2 separate regions of the Homo sapiens genome follow, and region 1 is linked to region 2. Evidence: fine-mapped expression QTL. Tissue or cell type: whole blood. Region 2 holds a variant in brackets; the other region holds the start of a gene. All regions are shown on one strand. Distances are from middle to middle.

Region 1 (8,107 bases), 160 kb before region 2:
GACAAATGCAAATTACCCAGCCACAGTCCAACCAAGGGTATCAAAACAGGATCTCTGCAGATGGAGCTCAGTGTTATGTGTTTTGGACAGCTCGCAATAAGATTTTCATGCATCATAAACTTTCCCTGAGTATCTCAGCCAGTTTTGTGGATGCCGAGGTTTGTTCAAAGCTGCAGATTACTGGGCCTCACCCCAGACCTACTCTACTTAAATATAGTGGGGTTCCCATAATCCCCATTTTACAAAACCTATCCAAGTTAAAGTACAGAGAATCACAAACTGGAAGAACTCCTTAATTTACAAATAAGGAATGGAGACCCCCCCCCACCAAGAGAGAACGGAATTTGCCCAAGGTCCCCCTGAAAGAGCCTAAGAAAACGTGAGGCTCTAAGGTTAAAATCCTACCTGACACCCTTTCCTTTCCCCAACTAGTCCTGTGACCTCTAGCAAACTATCCTGTCCTGATCTGTGAAATGGGAGCAACAGTCCCACCTACCCCAACTGGTGACTGCGAATATTAAATGGGGCCACAATGAGTCAACTCCAAGCACCACCCCACTGGAAGTTGAGGTTGAACTAATTCTAGATCGCCCTACCCCCATTCATCTCCCAGTACCATTGTATGACCGTGGAGGTGAAACCATCCAGCCGCCTGTTGGTCCCAAACCATGTTCACCTCCACCCGTGGCTCAGTGACTATTTCTTTTCTTGAAGAGAGAGAGAGGCTCCTTGGAGCCTCTGGAGTCTGGAGGGGAATGTTACCTTCCCCATGCCTGCATTGTCTTCCCAAGATAGGATGGACTATGGGGTCTCCATGAGGTTAGCTGCTGGGGCATCAAGGCTAGCTCCTAAGTGGTTGCTGGAGGCTTAGAGACCCCACTCCAGCTCTCTCTCAAATGGGGGCAGCTTGTTTGCAGCAGTGAGTGAGGTGGGCCAACTATGAACCCATGGGAGGAGAGGAAAAGACCATCCCATCTAAGCTTTTACATACCCCATTGCAAGCTCCAGAATGTGGTGCCCAGGCCCATATCTATAACCCACCCCCAGAGGCCAATTCTCCTCAGCCTTTCCTGCCCTTTCTGCCGTTGTACAGCCAGTTTCCATGCTCTCTTCTATCAAACTCCTACTCATCTCTCAGCCATCTAGTCCAAATATAAATCTTTCTCTGTGATATACTCTCAAGGTAGAGGCAGTGGTGCCTTCCTCTGTATTCCGAGAACATGTCATCTGCACCTCTACATACAGACATCATCCTACTGGTAGTGTTCCAGAGCATCTTTTAGGGGTTCATGAAGGAATCACTCTTCGTAAACACTGGCCTTATTCCCTAACTTCACCAGACCTGACCTTAGTGCATGATCCATTCCCACCTCTCCCAACCACATGAGAGCCTTTTCCTCTTTATGGGTTTACAAAACACAAACTGACCCAACCACCAGTTACTGGCCAAAAGCATTCTTGTCACATTTATAATAAAATCCAGCCAACAGGATACTTTGTGCCAAGGGAATGTTCCTTTTCAGGGCAAACACTCTGTCCCCAGGGATGTTAGACAACTTCCATAGCCCCAGATAAGCATTAGCTAGAAGTGAGTTTTCTTTGGTGGCCCAACAGATTCCCTGAGCATCCCTACTCTGTCACTGATTCCAGTTGCAGTGGGATTGCATCAAAGCTCTCAGAGCACAGCTGCAAAGGGTAAAGCAAAGCTAGAGCTCTACTCTGGACCTATCACTCTAGACAGTTTCTCTGTGAGGGGCAGTTTTATACGTAAGGAAGAAATGGAAGATTACTCCCAAAATGGCCTCAGGGTACTTATCCCAATTGTGTGGTTCAGTTGCTACTCCAGTGATGAGCAAATAAACAGGAAATAGAAGCACAACTATTCCTAAGCTCAAGAAGCAGGGAAGCTCAGGAATTGGTGTGCAGCAGTGCTGCTTGGAGCGCCATTACAAAGGGACAAGCACGGTCCACTGGGAGGTAAAATTCAGGGAATCTAAGACACAGGGGGTATGGGAAACAAGGCAGGCTTTTGTATTTATCATTTGCCGTGATATCTCTCTGTGAACTTTCTTTTAATTTTCCCTGTACTTTAATTATATTTCTTAGGCCTGACGTGGTGGCTTACATCTGTAATCCCAGTACTTTGGGAGGCTGAGGCAGGCAGAGCACCTGAGGCCAGGAGTTCGACCCCAGCCTGGCCAACATGATGAAACCCCATCTCCACTAGAAAAACAAAAGTTAGCTGGGCATGGTGGCAGGCTCCTGTAATCCCAGCTGCTCAGGAGGCTGAGGTATGAGAATCGCTTGAACACAGGAGGTGGAGGTTGCAGTGAACCGACATCATGCCACTGCACTCCAGCCTGAGCAATAGAGCAAGACTCTGTGTCAAAAAAAAAAAAAATTCTCAGTTAATGGCCAACATTGTTACCATCATAAGTCCCAGCTTCCCTGTCTTCCTGTCATCATGTGTTGAATGTCCACTTCCCTCCTTATTTTTCAGTTGGAGTGGATTAGCATCTCCAATTCGACATGTCAAAAGTAGAATTTTACACACACACACACACACACACCCCACTCCTGACACACACAGCATCTCTGTCCTCAGACTTCCCCATCCTTCTAGTTGCTCAAGTCAAAAGCCCAGGAATCGTCATTGAGCCCTCTGTTTCTCTTATTTATGGAACATCCATAAGCAAATTCCAAGGGCTGGCCCTTCAAAATAAATGTGGAATCCAGCCATTTCTAACACTTCCACCATTACCATCTGAGGTCGGGCTCCAACATCTTTGCAATCCTGGGACAGACTCTTAGCTGCCTTCTCCCTTCCACATCTCTTCTTGTCCTCCCAGAGTCTTTACCCCGCACAAACGCTGCTAGGGTGATTTTTTAAAATATGTCAGGGTATATTACCCCCCTGCTTCAAATCCTCCATTTAAAATAAATTTCACATTTATAGCAAAATCCAGACTTCTTCATATGGCCCACCAGGGGCTTTATGCTAATGGAATGTGCAGATGCTCCTCCCTGAGGAGCACCTTTTACCAGGGCAAATTCTCTATCTCCAATGATGTCAGGCAATTTCGACAACACCATTCTCTACCATCTCTTGCTTTTCATAGATTTGTTTCCTCCAGATTCTACAAAAAAAGAAGATCAAGTCTCCTTGTGCAATGATTTACTCTCTGATGTATATTGGTGCCAGGCACGTGTACTGCTTTCAGATGATTCAAGAATAACAGCGATTTAAGAAAGCTGTCGTTAAGTTTTCTCTTCTCTTTGTCTGTATGACATTATTTTTACAATTATACTTCCAAAGTTTGCTCTTTCCGAACACCTCAAGACCCGTGTAATTTAAGCAGTGATTTTAGGGGTCTCTGTATATTTTATATTAATTTCAGAAACATGCTCATGATTATTCCACCAAAACTATCAACTGTTACATAAACATCTGTCCTTCTATGAGTTACAAAATAATTGTCTCCATCCCCACTTAACCATCTTCTCTCCTTCTTTGAGCAACTTCTGAAAAATAACACCCAATACTGATGGCATCTCATTCTATTCAGCTTCTCAGACAGTAAGACGTTCTTTTCTTAAACAGTAAGATGTTTTCTCAAGCCCCATGCAAAGCACTTCTTTGATATCAGTTTGGGGAGGTCGTACTCTGGAGCCTTCATCCAAAGGGTAAAGTACAGCACTCAGTAATGCGCGTCCTGGGAACGAGGCCTAAGCAGTGCTGGCCACTGCCTCCTCCAGGCTGGCATTGTCTGTGTTCGCCAGCCCCGCCGCGAAGTTAGCTCATTTGTGATCAGGCCAAGTCCCTTTAGATTTCACGCAGACGCGGGTGCAGCCTGCTCTGGGACTTGAAGTCCGCTGGAGCCTGGGCCTCTGCATTATCCGGGTGGAGCTCTCTCTGCTGCTGCCGCCAAAGGATCCCGCCTGGATGCTCATCCCGCCACCGTCGCCCACCCCGCCGCTGCAGAAAGGCAGCAACTGCCACACACCTAAGCAACTTGGCGGGCTATTCGCCCTGCAGCTGCCGCCAGCGCGCGGCTCCCGCCAGCGCGCTGGCAATCAAAAGTCGGAGAAAGCGCGAAACCTCCAGGCACCTCCCACTCCGCCCAGCTACCGCGCAGCTCCTCCCTAGCCTCCACTGGGAGACAGGGGACGCCCATGAGCGGGAAAGAGCAGGGCGGTGATTGCTTAGTTTATCCTGGGACACGGGAACTGGCCGTGGACTGAGTGGTGCCGGGGAGGGGATCACTGAGACCGGGAAGGGTCATCCAGACAAATAGGGAGGGTGGGCGGGTTGGCGCGCAGTACCCTCGGCCCGGCCTTCAGACCCACCTGCGCGCGCTGCGCGCTCATCCGGTCCTTCCCTTCAATCACTGTCTGGAGTGATGATAATTGGCTTCCACAGTGGATGAGAGATGAGTCATTTACATCCAATGAGAGAAAAACAGCCTCCAGAGACTCTTCGTCCATTGGCCAGCGAGAGTGTCAGTTCCCAGGCTCCTGCCGCGCACGGGCGAGCCCTTCTAGGCGGGAAAAGTTCAGCTGAGAGATATAAAAGAGCAGTCTTTCCAGCACCTGCAAATCCAGAGCGGCGGGCACTGACGGGCACTTGCACCGTGTGGACAGACTCTCCGGTTCTGTGAGTGGTTTTTCTTTTCCCGGGTCGGACCTGGAGTTCTTAGGGGGATGGCTGACAAGGGCAGTAGGCAGAAGGACCTCAGCCCAAAGTCAAGGGGGTTTTGGATGGGGAGCTGGGCAGCCGCCCGTTGTAATTCCCTTCCCCCTGTCTCAGCTTCAAAGGCCAAGAGTTGTACTCCTGAAGAGATACTTAGAGATCATCTGGGTGTTCCTGAATCTCGAGAGGGTCGTTTGACCCTGGTGGGTCCTTTCCCTGCCCGGTGCCGTTCGCGCCCATAGAAGGAGACCAGGTTCGGTTAAGCAGAGCAGAAACTATTCACTGATCAAGGAATGGAGTAGGAGAGCTCCTGCTCAAAGTGCCTGGAGTGTAGTGTGAGGGTGCTTCTTAAGGTCTTTTAGGGCAGGTAGTTGGAAAGCAAGGATTTCTGGAAAGAGACGGGGCTTTCCAGAAACAGCTGAGTGTGGCAGTCTCCTATTTTCTGTTGCCACCCAACACTACATGTGCCTAGCAAGCTGCGTTTCTCCCCGAGGCACAGATTGAGGTATGGTAATCAGCAAGGATTCAGGTTAGGGTAGCGCTTCTAAGTTCGTTTCCCATCTTGTAGCACGGTGGTTACTGACATCCAGTCTCTGTTTCTGTAAGCAAGCACAGCTTCAAGCACAGGTTACCTTCATAGGTTCTGGGGCTTTAGGAAAGCATTGAGGTCATCCTGCGGTGACAGAGGCAGCTGTTCAAAGAACTTGGTGCGCCTTTGAGGCGGGGGTTGTGGAGTGAGGCAGGTAAAAATGCAGATTCCATAGCCACACCCCGACATACTGAATCAGAGTCTGTGAGGGTGGGATCTGGAATCCTTTTTAAAAAGCTTAGAGGAACCAATTCACACGAACAATAAAAGTTTCATCTGAGCCAAAGTCCTTAATCTAGAAATGAGGAAATGGGGATCCCTAAAAGGGTTACAGGGAGAGGGTTGGTGGAAAGTTAGACTATGACAGTTTTAGGGTGGTTCTTTCCTGGCCTTGGAAAGTTTTCTCAGCTGCTGCTCTGATCAGTACACAGCTGAATGCTTTAGGGGAACCCTCTTCATATATCCAGAGTTCCCTCTCTGTGCAGGTCTCCCACCATGTCTTTGGCCTGTGACCTCTTGTCACCTTAGTCTCTCAGCTTTGTCTCCTTAAATCTGGAATTCCTACTGGTTTTGTCTTGCTGCCCTTCCTTGCCACACTGGCCTGGAATTCCTCAAGGTAGTCTGCTAAAGTGGATTATAGGATACATTTCAATTGTCACTGTCCTTAATTGCATAATGTCCAGTTCCTTGCAAACCATTGTTTCATATGTTTTGCTCTTTTTTGTTTTGTTTTGTTTTCATACTAGGGGGAAATCCAGTCCCTGTTACTCCATTTTGGCCAGAAATTCAAGGTAATGACTTTTAATGTTTCTGACTGCTAGTTCTATCTTCTCTCTCACTTCTGGACCTGTCTCTATTCACTGATATTTCTAGTCATTATGGGTCATATTTATCCACTTTTTAAGTGCCTGCTGATTTTTTTATTAGATATCAAGCTTTGTTAATTTCACAACTTTGGGTGCCAGAAATTTTTACATTCCTATCAATATTCTTGAGCTTTGTTCTAGTATGTTCATATTTTACATGGAAACCATTTTATACTTTCGAAGCTTGCTTTTATTTATTAGGTGGGAGCAGAACTAGGGCTAATTTTGTCCTACTGCGGAAGAAATACCTTGCAGAGTAGTCTCCCTGATACTTCATGAATTATGAAGTTTTCTAGTCGGATTTTTGGGAATTGAAATTATACACAGTCCTGTATGAGCCTCAGAAATTGTTACATCTGCTTCTTTTGGGTACTTCTTTTCCTGTTCCTTTTCAACAGTTTCGTTCCACTCATGCATTGACCAAGCTGAAATCTCAAGGGATACCCACTGCAGATCTCTCATACTGTGTGCTCCTGTGGCTGTCTTCTCCCTAGTACTCTGTCATACAAGCTCCAGTCATCTTGGCCTCCCAAAACTCCTTGCTTGTCTTCTCAAATCAGGGAAACTACTAGACTCTGCCTGTTTCTCCTTCCTAAGATATGCCTTGGAAACTCCATACAGTAAGCTAAATAGCCATAGGGCTTACCTCATATGATTTTCTTCTCAGATATCAGAGATGAGGTCCCACACCACCTGATCTCCAGTGTTTGAAAGTGGTTATTTCATAGATCTTGTTTTTTTGGTTTTTTTAGACATTTCAGGTGGCAGAATAAATTCAATCCTTGTTTCTCCATCTTATCGAGTAGTAGAAGTTAGTTACATTCTCTTTGAACTCATCATGAATTCCATGAAGACTGAAGAAAACAAGTCATTTAGCGCTATGGAAGATGACCAGAGGACTAGACCTGAAGTTTCAAAGGTATATCTACTTTTTTACAACTCCTCAGAGGAGTGATAGTCTAACTATAGTGCCATATGAGGATCTTGGAGATAAGTTCTTAAACAATGGTCGTTATAAGCCCTTCTCTTAGGTAGTTTAAAATATATTTGGGGAGCTCATACACATAAGTGCTTGTGGAAAGCAAAATGATAGAGTTAACAATGCTAAACGTATGTTAAGACAACAAGATGACTAACAAACAATATAGACACTTAAAGTCTTGGAAAGTGTAGACAGGCAAAAATAATTAGCTAATGTTTTCTGAGGAAACACTGTGTGCCTAGAATTGTGTCCCATCATATGTATTATCTCATTTAACACTTAATAGAACTATGCAGTAGGTATTATTATCATACTTATTTTATAAAAGAAGAAACTGAAGCTCAACTTGCTTATAGTTGCAGAAGTAATGGACTTCAGAGCAAGGATTTAAACCTAGTCCATCAGACTGCAGAGACTGGTTTTTGACCCACACTATTTTGCTCAAAATATGCAAAATGATAATACAAAATTGAGACATAAACAAGTGATTTTAGAGTACAGAGAGAAGAATGCTTAATTCAGACTTAGGAAACTACAGCAGCGTCATATGAGAAATGATTTATTAATGAATAATAAATCTAAAATTGTCAAACTCATAGGTGTCGAAGTGGTTGTTGGGCTGGGAATAGAGAAAAATGGAGGTATTAGTCAAGGGGTACAAAGTTTCCTTATACAAGGTGAATAAGTTCTAGGGATCTGTACAGCATGGGTGCCTATAGTTAATAACACTGTTGTATACTCAAGTTCTTGCTAAAATGATAGATCTTATGTTAAGTGTTCTAATTACAAAAATAATAAGAGGGCAGGAAGAGACTTTGGGAGGTGATAGATAGGTTGATGGCATAGATTGTGGTGATAATGTATCTCCATACTCATCAAGTTGCATACATTAATTATGTACATTAATTATGCATTTTGTATGTCTAAAACTAAGTTATTTTTTAAAAAGAATGAATAACATTTCACTAGTGTATCAAGGA
Region 2 (8,107 bases):
CCAGGTTGAGCCCCTCCTGCTGGCCCCTCTATGTCCTGACCAGGTGGCCGGCACCACCCCTTTGACCTTCTGGCTCTGGAGCACCCTGCCCCCACCCCCAGGCCCCCATCAGCTCTATTTTTATCCAAGAAGCACTCGCCCTGTGTCTATTTAGATCACTCCCCATTGAGTTTCTGGTCCTCTCATAATCTAGGCCAAGCCTCCTCAGTCTTCATGGCCCCCTCGAAGGCCAAGCGGATTCTGCATGGCACCCAGCCTGCCAGGAGCCCACAGCTCACCCGAATGGTAGCCCTGGGAAGCTAAATGCTCCCAACTAATGGCAATGCAAGAAACTCACACACCATAGTGGCAACTGTGGGATTGAATGCATTGTCCACAAGAGGTCCCAGGTCCTTCACTCTCTGAGGCCCAGAGGGCACCCCCTGGCAAGGAGGATTCACTCCCACTGAGTGGCTGAGAGGCTGGAGATTAATCCAGACGACAGCAAGTGTTTATTCATAGCAAGAAAGAGACCAGTCGGGCAGAACTTTGACTTGTCAGTGCCAAACCTCAAACCGACAGCTCAGGCCCCAGCCCCTGGCCATAAAGCCACCTGACCTGTTCCTAGGTCTTCAGCAGCTATTTGGAACCTTTGCCAGCTGGGGCCAGGAGCCCCGCTGTGGGGCCATGATTTCCCCCAACCCATCCAGACAGTTGAAAAGATGACCTGGTGAAACCCCGTCTCTACTAAAAAATACAAAAAAATTAGCTGGGCGTGGTGGCAGGCGCCTGTAGTCCCAGCTACTCGGGAGGCTGAGACAGGAGAATGGTGTGAACCCAGGAGGCAGAGCTTGCAGTGAGCTGAGATCACGCCACTGCATTCCAGCCTGGGTGACAGAGCAAGACTCTGTTTCAAAAAAAAAAAGGATGCCCTTAGGAAGCCTTCAGGATTTCAGCTGATTAAGTAAATTAACATGTATGATCCACTTCCTGCAAAGGTGTGGACAGCTATGGGTGGAGAGCCAGAGCATCTTGCCCTATAACAGAAGGGCAGGCACTATCCCTGCTTCCTGCTGGCTTCGTGTGAGGTCATCTATGTGCATGGACCGGCCCCTAGAATCCTCCCCAGCCCGGTTCACAGATGACAAACCTGAGGCAAGAAGGCTCATAGGTCAATGCAGCCAGGAGGGGTCTGAGCTGAGACTTAAAAGCAAAACTGTTTGAGTTGGATCTTCCTGAATCTATCCTTGGAGACGGTCTCAACCCACAGTCCCCACAGCCACCTGAGAACCACTAAACAGGCTAGTTTAAATGCAGGTTTCATCTTCACCTGCTCCCTGGGGCTGATTCCTTAGGTCTTGGGTGGGGCCTGGAAATCTGCCTTCCTGGCTGTTTTCCAAGGCAGTGAGTCAGGCCCACAGGGACCCACCGGTCGACTCCAGCCTCAGAGGTCTAGAGAGGGGAACCTGTGGCCAAGGCCACACAGCAAGACAGACCAGAGCCTGGGTCCCCTCACTGAGGCTGGGCTCCAAGGCTGCCTGCTTGCTTGGGTTGGGAGGAGGCAAAGCTGGTGCAGCAGGGCCTGGCTCTGTACGCTACACCCGGAGGAGAACCAGGCTGTGTTCTCCTATCTCCCTGGCTCCATCTTACTCTGGTCCATTGCAGCCCTACTAGGAACTGTGTTTCTGATGTTTGTAATTCTAAAAATATGTTTTAGAAAACTGGAAATAACAAACAAACCCTCTTTTTCACCAGCACGGAGAAGGGCAGGCTGTCAGCCAGCAGGCCCATGCGCAGATCCCACCATACTCACAGCCAGGTCCTGTCCAGTGGATGGGACAAAGAAGGCCCTGCCCTGGTGGAGCTGACATTCCAGTGGGTGCTGGGTGATGAAGGCAGAGAAACAGTGGGGCTGAGGTGGGGGCTTTCCCCAGGGAGGATGTCTTAGTCCATTCTGGCTGTTGTGACAAAATAAAAACATGAACTGGGTGGCTTATAAACAGAAATTTATTCTCACAATTCTGGAGACAAAGTCCAAGATCAAGGTGCCAGCAGATTTTGTGTCTGGTAAGGGACCCACTTTCTGATTCCCTGTGTCCTCACATGGCAGAAGAGGCAAGGGGGCTAAGGTCTCTTACAAAGGCACCTGGCTGGGTGCAGTGGCTCACACCTGTAATCCTAGCACTTTGGGAGGCCAAGGCTGGAGGATCACTTGAGTCTGGGAGTTCAAGACCCAGCCTGGGCAACGTGACAAAACCTTATCTCTACAAAAACAAGTCAGAAGAGAAAGTGTGAATCGATTCCTGTCCTTGGAGTCCTGAGTGGGCTTAGATGAGGTTAGAGTCTTTCTGCTCTATTCTTCCCTTGCCCTCTGTCCCAGAGGTTGCTGAAAGCTATTGCTGCCCCAGGGCAGGTCAGGGGCCAGAGGCATAACCGTGCACCCACTGGAAGGGGACCCCACAGCTGGACCTGGCTGCTGGGGACATGGAGTAGCCTTGAGGGACCCCCAGCTGGAGGGAAAAGGAAAGCCAAGCGGCACATACTGGACAAGTGTTAGGTTTCAAAAACCCAGGGAAATCCAGATACTGCCCAAGAAAACAGGTTCTAGAACTAGGATTTTCAAATTTAGAAAATTCAAAACATCAAGTGGAAAAGAGGATGGTTTTCCTGTTTCTGGGAAACAAAGGCCTCCCAGAAAACCAGAAACACAGGTGGAAGTCACGAAAGAAAATATAGGTTTGGTGGATGTCTTTTCATCTACCTGTGAATGTTAGGGGCTGTGGAAGGAGAAGAGGAAGCAGGTCTGGACATGGCAAATATGATCAATAAATAATAGTAGAAATTTTCCCTGATCAGAAGAGGGCATGAGTTTGCACATTGAAAAGGTTGTTAGAGTTCCAGGCAGGGTTACATTGAAGAAAAAGATACACCCTTGGCATCTCCTGGTGACATTCTTGAAAGCTACAGATAAAATCAAAGAGGCTTCCCAGCAGAATAAATAGATAATTGACAAAGGAGGAAGAAAAGAAACACATTGGCAGCAGATTCCTCATTTGCAGCACTGAAAACCGGAGGACTCTGGCTGGCCTGGGCCCAGGAAGCCTCACCAGAGCATTAATACCATTCCCTGACCAGACTAAGAAATATATTTTGCAGACGAGCAAGCGAAATTCAGAGGATATTCCCGCTTGTGTTACGTATGAAGGAAATCATCAAGAAAGGCCCTAATGAAATGGCAGTTGATCAGAATAGGGACCCCAAGTTGGAAGGAGAGGGAATCCTTGTTAGTTGAGTCTCACAGTTTATAGGAAAATATCAGTGGAAGGTGGCAGGGATAGGAGCCTTCTTGGGTAGCTCTTACTGGGGTGGGTAGGGCGGAAGGAAGCAGAGAGAGTCCTAGCGGGAGGCAGGTGCTTACCCTGTTTCTATATAATGATCAGGAAGCAACCATTTGCTGTAATGATAGATTGACAATTAGAAAGAGAATAAATAGTAATTTGCCCAAACCATCAAAACTATGGAAAAAGGAGTAAAATAAACCATTCACATAGAATAAAGTGACATACAAATGTCAGATCCTTCAGTTGTTCTAACAAAATCTGAGACTGCTTTAGACTGGGTTAGAAAACAAAATCCAGCTATAGTTGTTTACAAAAAAAAAACTGAAACAGGATAGTAAGAAGAGGTTCAAAATTACAAATTGGGTCAGGTGCAGTGGCTCACACCTATAATCCCAGCACTTTGGGAGGCCAAGGTGGGTGGGTCGCCTGAGCCCAGGAGTTTTGAGATCAGTCTGAGTGACATGGCAAGACCTGTCTCTATCAAAAAAATTACAAGTAGTTAGCTGGGTGTGGTGGCTCGTGCCTGTGGTCTCAGCTACTTGGGAGGCCAAGGCAGGAAGATTGCTTATGCCCAGGAGGCGGGGGTTGCAGTGAGCCCAGATTGCACCACTGCACTCCAGCCTGGGCGACAGAGTGAGATCTTGTCTCACCAACAAAAAACAAAGCAAAACACCCAAAATTAAAAGTTTGACAAAGTATACCTGGCACATGTAACCAAAAAGAAAGAACTGGCAAAGTTAATATCTAAGCGGATTTTAGGGTACAAAGCATTAAAAGGATGAAGAGGACAGTAGGTAAAGATAAAAAGTTCAATTGGTGGTGAAGAAGAATAATAACTTCCATTAACCTTTGGGCCTCAACTCACATGATAACCAACTCTAATGGAGAATGAGAGGTGATGGCTGAGGAGGGCTCTAGACCCAGAAGGTCTAGGTTTGAATCCCTGCTCCACTCACTGATAAGCATGGTGTGGACATTAATTCTCTGTGCCCTGCCTTCCTCATCTGTAAAATGGTTTGCTAATCCTTTAACAGGCATTAAGTGGAAGAGTTAATGCAGGTTGTAATGTGACTGTTAATCAACAGATGTGAGCTATTTTAATTATACATAAACACTGCTGGCGATAAAAGGAGAACTTTAACAGATGCACACATAAAACTCTAGGGAGTGAAGTGT[G/A]GGAGGCAGAATTAGTTACTTGACCTTACTAAGCCTTAGTTTCTCCTTCTGTGAAATGGGTAAAAAGGCTGCCTTACTCACAGTGCTGGCGAGACTCCCAGAGATGCTTACCATCTGCACAGCATGGAGGACTCTGAGAAGTGTTTGCTAATTGTTCTGGAAGGTTGATCTTTGTCCTTTGAGAGGGGCTGGATTTTTGGCTGAACCTGGAATAATAAATAAACAAGCATCAATGCAAAGTCACAAGCTGTCATCGTGGGCTCGAGGTGGCTGCCACTCAGGGAAGGGAATGGAGGTATCAGCTAGTGCATCAGGACCTGGGGTGATCACTCCCCAGAAGGCCATTACCCTGTTCAATCTCCATGAACACCCTGGGGGAGGGAGATAAACCTTCACAGGTAAGGAGAGTGAGGCTCAGAGACTCTGAGTCATTTGTGAGGTCGCTGACCTGATGAGCAGCTGAGGGAAAATTCAAATCTGGGGAGGGTCTTACCCCATAGTCCAGCATCCCTGGAGCCTCTTGCCCATGCCAGGTGTTTGGAGCAATGGGACATCGCAGAAATAGTGTGTGCAACCTCCCAGGGGACAACTTCTACTGTCAGCTGACCAGACCAATCAACTGTAGAGAGCAGCAGCCTGAAGATAGGACACGAGCGTTGAGTTGGACAGATGCTGGCTTGACCTTGGGATGTCATGTGCACACACACAAACACACACATAGACACACCCACTAGATATGAGGATTACAGGAGCTCACAGGATGTGCCTGGTGCCCAGTAGGTGCTTGGTCAATGTTCCTTTCCCCTCCAGCAGCTCCTGTCTACTCTTCCTTGCCAGAACCCCATCCTATCCAGCACCCTACACTGCAAGTTTCTGAGCCACTTAGGTCACAAGTCCCTCTCTTCTCTTCCAGGTGTGACAGGTATGCTTGGGGGACACCCACTTTACACAGTCAAGATGAGTCTCCTCACTTGTTTATTTCTCAGGCACATACATTGGAGAGAGGCTCACAGAGTTGAAGGGACTGGAAGCCCACTTCTATATACAACTCCAGGTGGGCAGCTGCTTTTCTACCACGCCGGATTGAACCTTCCCCCCTGGTTTGTCCTGGCAAATCCCCGCTGGGGCTGAACCACATGTTGGGTTCATGGCCAAGTCCATCCTCAGCTTGGCCAGCTGGGACCAAGATGCTAAAATTTCCTCCCACCCAGAGCAAGGGCACCCACATTGTTCTAATGCAGGACTCCCCGGAACAGTTTCTTAAAAGAAACAGAAAAGTCAAAACTTGTCAGTATATCCATGAACATGATCTTCAGAATAGCAATCATCATTACAGAAAAACCGAGTAATTGTCTCTCAGGTGCCAGTGTGCAGCTGTGAGGCATCCGTGCCAGAAGCCTGAGGAAGAGCCCAGGAGTGTGGCCTGTTCTTGGGAACTGAGGCACTGCGGCTGGCCCCCTGTAAGCTGGTTCCTCCTCGATACACCCCACACCTCGATGAACTGGAGTTCCATGTTCTCAGACCCCCCAGAACAGAAACCAAGAAAACCCATTTCCTCCAGCTGGAAATTCCCAAATAAGTCCCTTCACCCTTTCCTTGTGTTTGGGGTTGTGTGTTCTTAAAGTGGCCCAGTTGGGACCCTTCCCTGCCATTTTCCCTGGGCCCCAGTGCAAGCTGTAAACAGCGGTCACCAGGCCAGCCCTGTGTTTGCTGGCAGCACTGAACTTGGCCCCTTTTCCCACTGAGGGAGGGCAAAGCTGACTACAAGGCAAGACACATCATCCTGAGCTGGGTTTGCGGGAGGCTTTCTGTCTCCTCTTTTTTCAGTGAACCCAGGTGTTGTCAGAGGAAGTAACTTCTTATTGTAGGGTTGGGATTTCATCCAGCACAGGTGTAAGGGCTCAGCTTTATGCATTGGCTTTGGCCTTAAAATGTTCTGTCCCTAGGCCTCATGCAGGTCTTGTCCCCTCTGCCAGCCAAATTTCTGCATGACCTAGGGCCGGTCACTGTACCTTTTGTGAGAGGAGGCAGTTAGGGGCTGGCTAGGCAGGTAGAGATGGAGAGTCTCTGGAGAGAACAACACCCACAGGGAAGTATATTCTTCCCCTGTTACGTAGCTAGCAGGTGGAGATGTGGTTAAGAACTTCCTCTTATACCAGGATGTTTGCTCAGAATGGACTGTCTCAACTTAGGCACAAGCACAATAAATCAACTAAATGTCCTTAACTTGACCCAGCTTATTATAATATCATGAACATGACATCTACGTTGCAGTTTTACCACCACCCCCACCCCCAACTGGGCTTTTCTGTAGTGCCTATGGGTAATAATTACAATGGAGTAACTGTGGACAAGAAGGCACCTGCACAGTAAGAAGTGGAACTAGGAAGGAACTTGGAAGTAGGAGGTTATGTAAGATGCAAATGAGAAAAACATCTCTAGAAAGGAGGGATAAAAACCCTTGGATGAGCTGGTCAGCAGCAACCTACTTTCAGGTCCCCTCTCTTTACTGAGAGCTGTCTTTCTGTCACTTAATAAAACTCGACTCTCCCTTACCCACCCTCCTGTATCCGCATACCTCTTTCTTCGTGGCCACGAGACAAGAACTTGGAACTTACTAAAATACAGAGTAAGGAAACTGCAACATTTCTTAGGGGCTCACCCAGGATAACCCAGACCTCTGTTAACACTGTAAAGTTCACCCAGCCCTCCTAATTGTTATATCAAAAAACCCCACAAAGGACAGTCCTAGTGGACCAGGGAAACAAACCCTAGAACGCCCACAGAAAAGGCGCCAGCCCCTGAAGCCAGTTCTCTGGGTCAATCCTATCGACCCTGTCCAGGTCCCCCCTTAAACTTGCCCCACCATAGACATTTTTGTTCTAGGTGAGTGCCAGCCTCCCTGATGCCCATACAAGAAATGCCTTGTGAATATGGCCCTATTAAGGTACAGGTTCCCTTTTCTCTACAAGACTTAAGACAAATAAAGGGAACTCTTGGTAGATTTTCAGGCAACCCTGGCAGGTATATAAAGGCCTTCCAGGATTTAACCCAAGTATTTGAACTCTCCTGGAAGGACATTATATTTCTCTTAAAGCAAACCCTGACCACTGTGGAGAAACAGCCTCCCTGCAAGTTGCAGAGAAATTTGGAAATGAGCTTTGTACCTCATATAGTGCCAGAGAAGACAAGGCACCTTATTCAATTGGAAAGACGGCGATACCATTGTAGGACCCTAAATGGGACCATGATGATAACATGGGAGAATGGAGGAGGAAACACTTTCAGGTGTGCATATTGGAGGGCTTAGGAAGGACTAGAGCTAAGCCTTTCAATTACTCAAAACTGTGATTGACCAGAGATTAGATGAGAATCCCTCTGGCTTTCTGGAAAGGCTAAGAGAGGACTTGATGAAGCATACCTCTCTATCACCTGATTCAGTAGAGAGACAACTAATCCTATATGATAAAGTTATTATTCAGGCAACACCTGATATCAGGAGGAAGCTACAAAAACAGACCATAGGACCAGGTAGCACTTTAGAAAACCACCTAAATGTGATCACCTTGGTCTTTTACAACAGCGATCAGGAGGAGGCTCAGGAGAAAGAG

Evidence for each region. PIP is the estimated chance that this variant, and not a neighbour inherited with it, causes the effect.
Region 1: FAM111B starts here. The variant in region 2 is fine-mapped to the expression of FAM111B in whole blood (TOPMed, PIP above 0.99).

Annotation. Positions count from the first base shown.
Region 1 is chr11:59,102,643-59,110,749 of GRCh38, forward strand. FAM111B (FAM111 trypsin like peptidase B) reads left to right here and starts at 4,595. Exons shown (of 4, transcript NM_198947.4): 1 at 4,595-4,654; 2 at 6,026-6,070; 3 at 6,898-7,064. The coding sequence starts at 6,984. LOC105369315 (a long non-coding RNA gene) reads right to left here and starts at 4,083. Exons shown (of 3, transcript XR_007062680.1): 1 at 1-4,083. RefSeq lists enhancers at 1-378, 1-8, 4,484-4,573, 5,714-5,763.
Region 2 is chr11:59,266,907-59,275,013 of GRCh38, forward strand. No RefSeq gene overlaps it. Among named protein-coding and RNA genes, the nearest start is that of MPEG1, 58 kb to the left of the region's middle. RefSeq lists an enhancer at 6,244-6,293. The variant G/A (reference allele first, on the strand shown) is at 4,497.